Regions from separate parts of the Homo sapiens genome. Here region 1 is reported to be linked to region 2. Evidence: microRNA targets listed by miRTarBase, many of them from high-throughput screens and not tested one by one. Region 2 holds a microRNA gene; the other region holds the end of a gene's coding sequence.
What was found. The annotated mature microRNA hsa-miR-2113 reads AUUUGUGCUUGGCUCUGUCAC and lies in region 2 at 1,029-1,049, opposite strand. An mRNA with a match to its seed (bases 2 to 7 or 8) in the 3' UTR can be bound and repressed. Matches are read on the target gene's strand: a 7mer-m8 pairs with bases 2 to 8, a 7mer-A1 pairs with bases 2 to 7 and ends in A, and an 8mer does both.

Region 1: miRTarBase lists ZMIZ2 as a target of hsa-miR-2113. The part of its 3' UTR that is shown has no 7-base or 8-base seed match.

The regions. Positions count from the first base shown.
Region 1 is chr7:44,767,197-44,770,307 of GRCh38, reverse strand. It overlaps ZMIZ2 (zinc finger MIZ-type containing 2), which reads right to left. Exons shown (of 19, transcript NM_031449.4): 19 at 427-2,792. The coding sequence ends at 2,685. Among named protein-coding and RNA genes, the nearest start is that of ZMIZ2, 20 kb to the right of the region's middle. RefSeq lists enhancers at 1,824-1,963, 1,798-2,324.
Region 2 is chr6:98,022,524-98,025,634 of GRCh38, reverse strand. It overlaps MIR2113 (microRNA 2113), which reads right to left and starts at 1,104; the gene lies at 1,014-1,104.

The DNA.
Region 1 (3,111 bases), not on the chromosome of region 2:
TTTCATTTTCCTTCTGGTATGGATTTCTGGTTTTATTCCATTGTGATTGGAGAAGGTGGTTTGCAGGATTCCGATCTCTAATTTACTGAGACTTGCTTTGTGCACTAACGTGTGGTCTGTCCTGGAGAACGTTCCCTGTGCACTTAGAAACGTGTGTTCTGCTGCTATTGGGTGGAGCACTGTTAAGTCTGGTCAGCCTTTTGGTTTTTATGTAATACTTGGCACATTCACAAGAAAATGTGTGAAACAGAAAGTACGACAAAGTGAAACCCACGAAGCCACCACTGACCCTGAGGTTCAAAACCTCCAGCATCTCTGCTCTTCCCTAAGCACAGCTCCGTCCCCTCCCCACGGGTGAGCACTGTGTTGTACTGACTCCCTGCCCTCCCTGATGACTTTAGCACCTGGGTATGAATTCCACACATATTTGGTTTTGAGCTTTATAAAAATGGCATCATACTGTATGAACTGTCTTGCTTTTTCATCCCACGTTGTTTCTGAGAGGTGTTTGTGATGGAGCACAGGGCCACGGTGCCCATGCATTCCTCAATCATTTCTCCAGTCTTCTGAGGATGGGCTTCTGGGTTGTTTGCAGCCTTTTGCTTGTCCCAGTCTCCTAGTTTCTCCACTCCATCCGGGAGCATCACGTTTGCAACAGGCAGGGCAGGTGGTGCATCAGATGTCCAGGACACAGTCATTTGACACCCAAGAAAGGAGGGCCTGGGGCCTGCATCAGGCCATGGCTGAGTGGGACTTTGCCAGGCTGTCTCCGCACCCAGCGACAGGACTGTGCGTGCTGCTGCTTCTTTTGTTTCCTCCACTTCTGTTCCCTCATCCAGAGAGGGCGGAAGAGCTGGAAACAGAGGCTTTGTCAGGGAATAAGGAAGCCCACCTGTGTGGTCCCAAATGTCGCAGGGGCAACGCTCACACCAGATACCTCCCTCCTCCTCCTCCCTGCAGCCTCTGGGCTCCCACAGACAGATGCCCTCCTCTAGTGCCTCCAGGGGCAGGCCTTGGCCGCCAGCCTGAGGATGCCCAGCGCTCCCCTCCTCCCCTAGGTTCCTGTGTTCCCCCAGTTCTTGCCTCTCCTGCTGGCTGGCTGGGAAGGCCCTCAAGGATGGGGCCCAGGACTGGAGGAAATGGTGACCCGGACCCCCACCAAGCTGGACAGGCAGATGGTAGGCAGGACACACCTCTGCAATCTCTGGGAAGTGACAAGCAGAGGCCTCCCAGGGACAAGAGCTGAGAAGGATGAGCCCCTGGCTGGGCTGGGGCTGCCAAACAACTGTCTCAGTGCCCCAGGGCAAGCCCAGATAAGGTGACATAGTGGCAAATGTCTCTCCTGGGCAAGCCTGGGATGCTTCACAAAACAGCTCTTCAGCTGAAGCCAACTTGGAAAATTCCAGGGAAAAGGAAATTTACTATGGGGCGGGAATAGCCGAGCCTTGGCTTGAAACATCCAGAGCTCAACCTGGGGCCCCAAAAGCCACTTGAAGGTCGACCTGGCCCCCAGGTCCTGCACAAGCTTTGCAGGCACAGCCCAAGCTTTAGGCAGGTCGCTGGCTTACGAGGAGAAAATAGTCCCTGGGAGCACAAAGGAGGGACTCGGCCAGGCCCACCAAGAGGGAGTCCTTTAATAGAGATCGGCACAGACAGGAGACACAACAGCCCAGGCGCCCTGCTCGCACAGGCTGGGGCCCTGAGCCAACAGATGCAGTGGCTTCCTCCTCCCCCACCTGGGTGTGGGCCCATGGGGTGGAGACAGAGAGGTGGCTTTAAAAAACACAGCTGTACTAATTCTTCACTTTCACAGAGAAGGGGAACTTGGGAGCGCAGCCCGCTAGAGAATCTTTACACAGAGCTGAATCTGAGAGCCCACCCACCCACCTCGGCCAGGCCGAAGCTCACTGTCCCCCACCCATTGGAGGTTCCTCCCTGATCTGTCTGCACATGGGAAGGAGCAGAGCGCGCAGGGAGACCGGGCTGTACAACAGGAACATGCTGGCTGGACAGCTGGCTCCCCTCTCCCAGCTGTTAGTGTTTCTACACTATGTACATTGTTGTGCTTTGTAGCTCCCCCACCCCGAGGCCTCTGCTTGAAGCTGGGGTGGGGAGAGGAACCTGACACCACACACGGCTGGGCTGCCAGAGCTCCAGGCCCCCAAGAGGCTGCCATTCAGCGAGGTTCCAAGAGCTGGACTGCTGGGCACAGGGGCCACTGGAGCCAAAGGCCCAGGGGACAGAGCCAGCCCTGCCAGATGCCCAGCTCTGCCCAGTGGAGGAGTTGTTGAAACAGAAGGATCAATGCTGGACAAGAAGCAGGCTGGGTGGGGGCAGGCAGGGGTGGAAGGACAAGGTGTGAGGCTGTGAGACCAGGGGCGTGAGATGTGTGTGTGGACAAGGCTGGACAGGGCTGGGCAGGGGCACCTCAGCAAAAACCGTTCTGCAGCAGCAGGCTTGGCAGAGGGAGGTGGCAAGGGCTGCCGGCCTGGGAGCCCCTCCCATCGAGCACAGGGCTGCTTCCAATTCAGGGGCAGGGCTGGCGGCAGAAGGCTCTGGCTCCAGGTGTGTTTTGGGGGAGGTTTGGGAAAGACCACCGGGTGTCCCATGGGGCTGGGCATGAAGGGCAGGGCTGTGGTGACATCTGTGAGCGTGTCCCCGCCGGGCTTGGGGTAAACACAGGATCAGTTGTTCTCAAACAGAGAAAGCAGGTCGTCATTGTTGTTCGTAGGGAGGTCGGGTGGGCCCAAGTAGGACAGTAGCTCATCAGGGTTGGTCAGTTCCGGGAGCAGCTGAGGACAAAGTGAACTCTGTTAGCAGCTTTGGTCACTGACTGGCCACACCTGAGTGACCATCCTGTCACCACATCCCGGCCCTGTCTCCAGGCACAGTGGGGATGCTGAGCAGCCCCTCCTCACACACAGGCCGGGTGCGGGGCCCCACCATAGGCCTGCATGTGCTCAAAGAGGCACACGCCACCCCCTGGGACCTCCCTGCAAGGTTGCTCTGGGGCCAGAACAGCTGGCAACATGCTGTTCAATACCACCAGGAAACGGGATGTGAGGGAGTGCAGCCACTCCACACTCCCTCTGTGCATCAGCCTGCGTGGGG
Region 2 (3,111 bases):
AGATCTGCTTTGTTTTTTACTTTTTATCCAGCTGTTGGATTCTGTGGAAGGACAGCCTAGGTCTATACTTAGATGCGCAAAGAAAATGATGTCAGATGTATATTGCTAGTCCTCTGGAAAACACTTCCTATTCAATAGGTTGTAGGCACCATTAGTGTTCTTGAGAGAGAAAAACAGAAATTCCATAGAGAAATGATTTTTATTTGGAACTGCCTACATTAGAACACATTTCATGGACTATGTTTTTTCATTAATGCATCCTCTTAAAATAATATAGAAATTTAAAGTAAGAATATAATTCCTACTAGCAAAATTTCCATATTCACTTTGACAGCAAGTTAATAAATATTTACTTCCAGGGAGCAAATCATCTTTGGCAGGGTGAAAAAGAGTGCTGCATCAAACCAGGACCAACTTAGAGACCAGAAGATGTTCTACCAAATACTTGTGTCCCTCTTCTAATATCAGCAAACTCACATGTGATGAGGCACCAAAATAAGAAACAGAGGTGGCCCATCAGTCTTTAGGATTGAAATTTGTTTTGAGTCCATTTTATAAAAGTTAAAGACCTCTAGGCTTAATAATTGGGTTTTCAAAAATTCACAACTAAAAAGAAAAACCTCTTTTTCTTTCCAGATAGTGTATATTCTTTTTCCTTAAAAAAACCTAACTACATATTAAAAGGAAAAACTAACCAACATAATAAATGTTACTTCTCTCCTCAATTTCTGTGATTTTTTTTTTACATATTCGGAAGTCATAAGAGGTAAACAAATCTCCTATAATGAAGCAGTTGATGGCCAGTGAAAATGAATGGATGCAGCAAATATTTTGTTAACAATAACATAGCCACAAAATCATAGTACATATACAAAACTCTTAAAAATTATTAAAGGATGCCATGAGATAAAGCAGGAGAAAAAAAACACTGGTGAACAAAAACAATCAGATGCTCTGGAAAGAGTAAGGAGAAAAAGATGGGCATGAAAATTTATAGACAGTTTGAGGGTAGGTTTTCAAAGTGGCATGTGACAGAGCCAAGCACAAATCCTCTTACTTATTAACGGGATTTGTCCCTGTACCTGTCACACATTGCTTTGAAAATATCTGCCTCTGTGAAAGGTATACTGCTTCTCTCCGTCAGTTTTACTCTTAAGAGACTAATGTATAATCTCTTTAGGTTTCATCTTTTGTATTTCTGTGCATATGACAAATTGTTTTGAACACTCTTCATCCATACACATAAGAAAGTAGGCACTAAGGGCTTATCACTGCATATTTAAAAATCCCTGAGATACTATTTTCCTCATTGGAAATAATTGTTCTATTAAAATAATCTCTGGATTTATCACTGAAGAATTTTCAACTAATGCATTCATGTCTTGATGCCGTGAGGCAATTGTTCTCAACTTTATCTGATCCAGTTCCTCCTTTTTATAACAAATACTTTGTAACCCGTTTACTATAACAAAATGAAATTCATAGATATTATAACCACTTCAAGAATATCATAGAAAAAGTCAATACAATGCCCCAACTATAAAATAAAAGAAATAAAAAGAAACAACTTTGTAATATTAATAAAATAGTATATATTTTGAAATGTAAATATTCTAGCACTGCCACATAATGAAGACATGAAGTCAAGTGCTGATACATGTGCACAGAATCATGATAAATTTGCAAAGGCATCAGCCACTAATGCAAACTAAAGTAAGATTGTTGTATTGATGCAGCAAACACCATAGAGTTGCCATCAATGAACAACAATTGGTAAACTTCGAAATAACAATTTCCAATTAATTTATGAGAGAGTTTGATTTCTGAAAAGTTCATTACATATTAAACAATGTAAAAAATCTTCTAATTCCATGTAAATGAAAATAAAATCAAAGTGTGGATAATATTACATAGGTTTTTCAACCACATGAATGTCTGATAGGATACTCAAAAGTTCTGTGAGCATAGGAGAGTTTTTCAATGAGAGCCTCCCGCAAGCAAGCTGCAAATGTCTATCATCCCTTGACTCCACCCAGGAGTCAGTGGTGGCCCTGGCTCCACACCATGCAATTTTTATAAAAACCTAATACATCCCTGCAAGTTTCCAAGGTTTTCTTTAGGGTGTGATACTCCTCCCACTCCGTGAGAATCACTGTGATAAGATTACAAAGAAGGAGAATTATAACAAATAATGGTACCTGTACCTTTTTGTTTTTATTTCGTTTTCCCTTTACTAAAGTGAGGCAGAGCTTCACTTTAAAAAATCCATCATGCAACTGACATTGAATTTACATATTTGTGGCAGCAACACTCAAAAGAGTCTTCTCATCATAACTTTTAGTTAAAAATAAATGAACTTAGCACATGTATTAGGAACATTTGAGTGAAACTTACTTAATGGAGTATCACACATGATATGTTTGACTACTTAACTTTAAAATAGAAGAATAGACTTTTTCTTAGGAATTACATTCTATACACATAAACCATTTATCCAGACATGCACAAAAAAATATAATTTGTAAAGCAGAGGAAAAAAGGAGATGCAGAAGGAATATGGGAAAGAAAAGAAATAATGGTGAAAGCTGTTGTTTCAACGGAAAAATAACTTTGCACATGACATGATATGATGCTAGATTTATTATTCCATTTATCCATTTATCCTTAAAACAAACCAACCATAGACATTTACCTTAGAAATATAAAGTTGCTTATTTCTGTGCATACAGTTTTACAGAACCATGGATTGATGGTTTCGTAAGGTATCAGTCACACTTCCATAGCATTTGCTGATATAAATATAAAACCTTCATTTTAAAGGATAAATAAAGCCACACTATTATCTAAACAGGGTAAAATTTAACATCCTTGTGGTTTGTGGAAATTTTTGATGTGCCTGCTGGCTTTTCAATAAAAATCAATTATGCCTTAAATGCGAGCGGTAGTCAACATACTACAGACTATAAATTCAATTTCATACTCAGAAATATGGATTAGCTGAACTTGATGCCCTTCCATTGATTTCAGAAAGCAAAAGCTGATAAGGTAAATAATAGTAAGAGGCTCTCTGACACTCCACATCAAGTTCCGGATTTCCATATTATTTTTGTA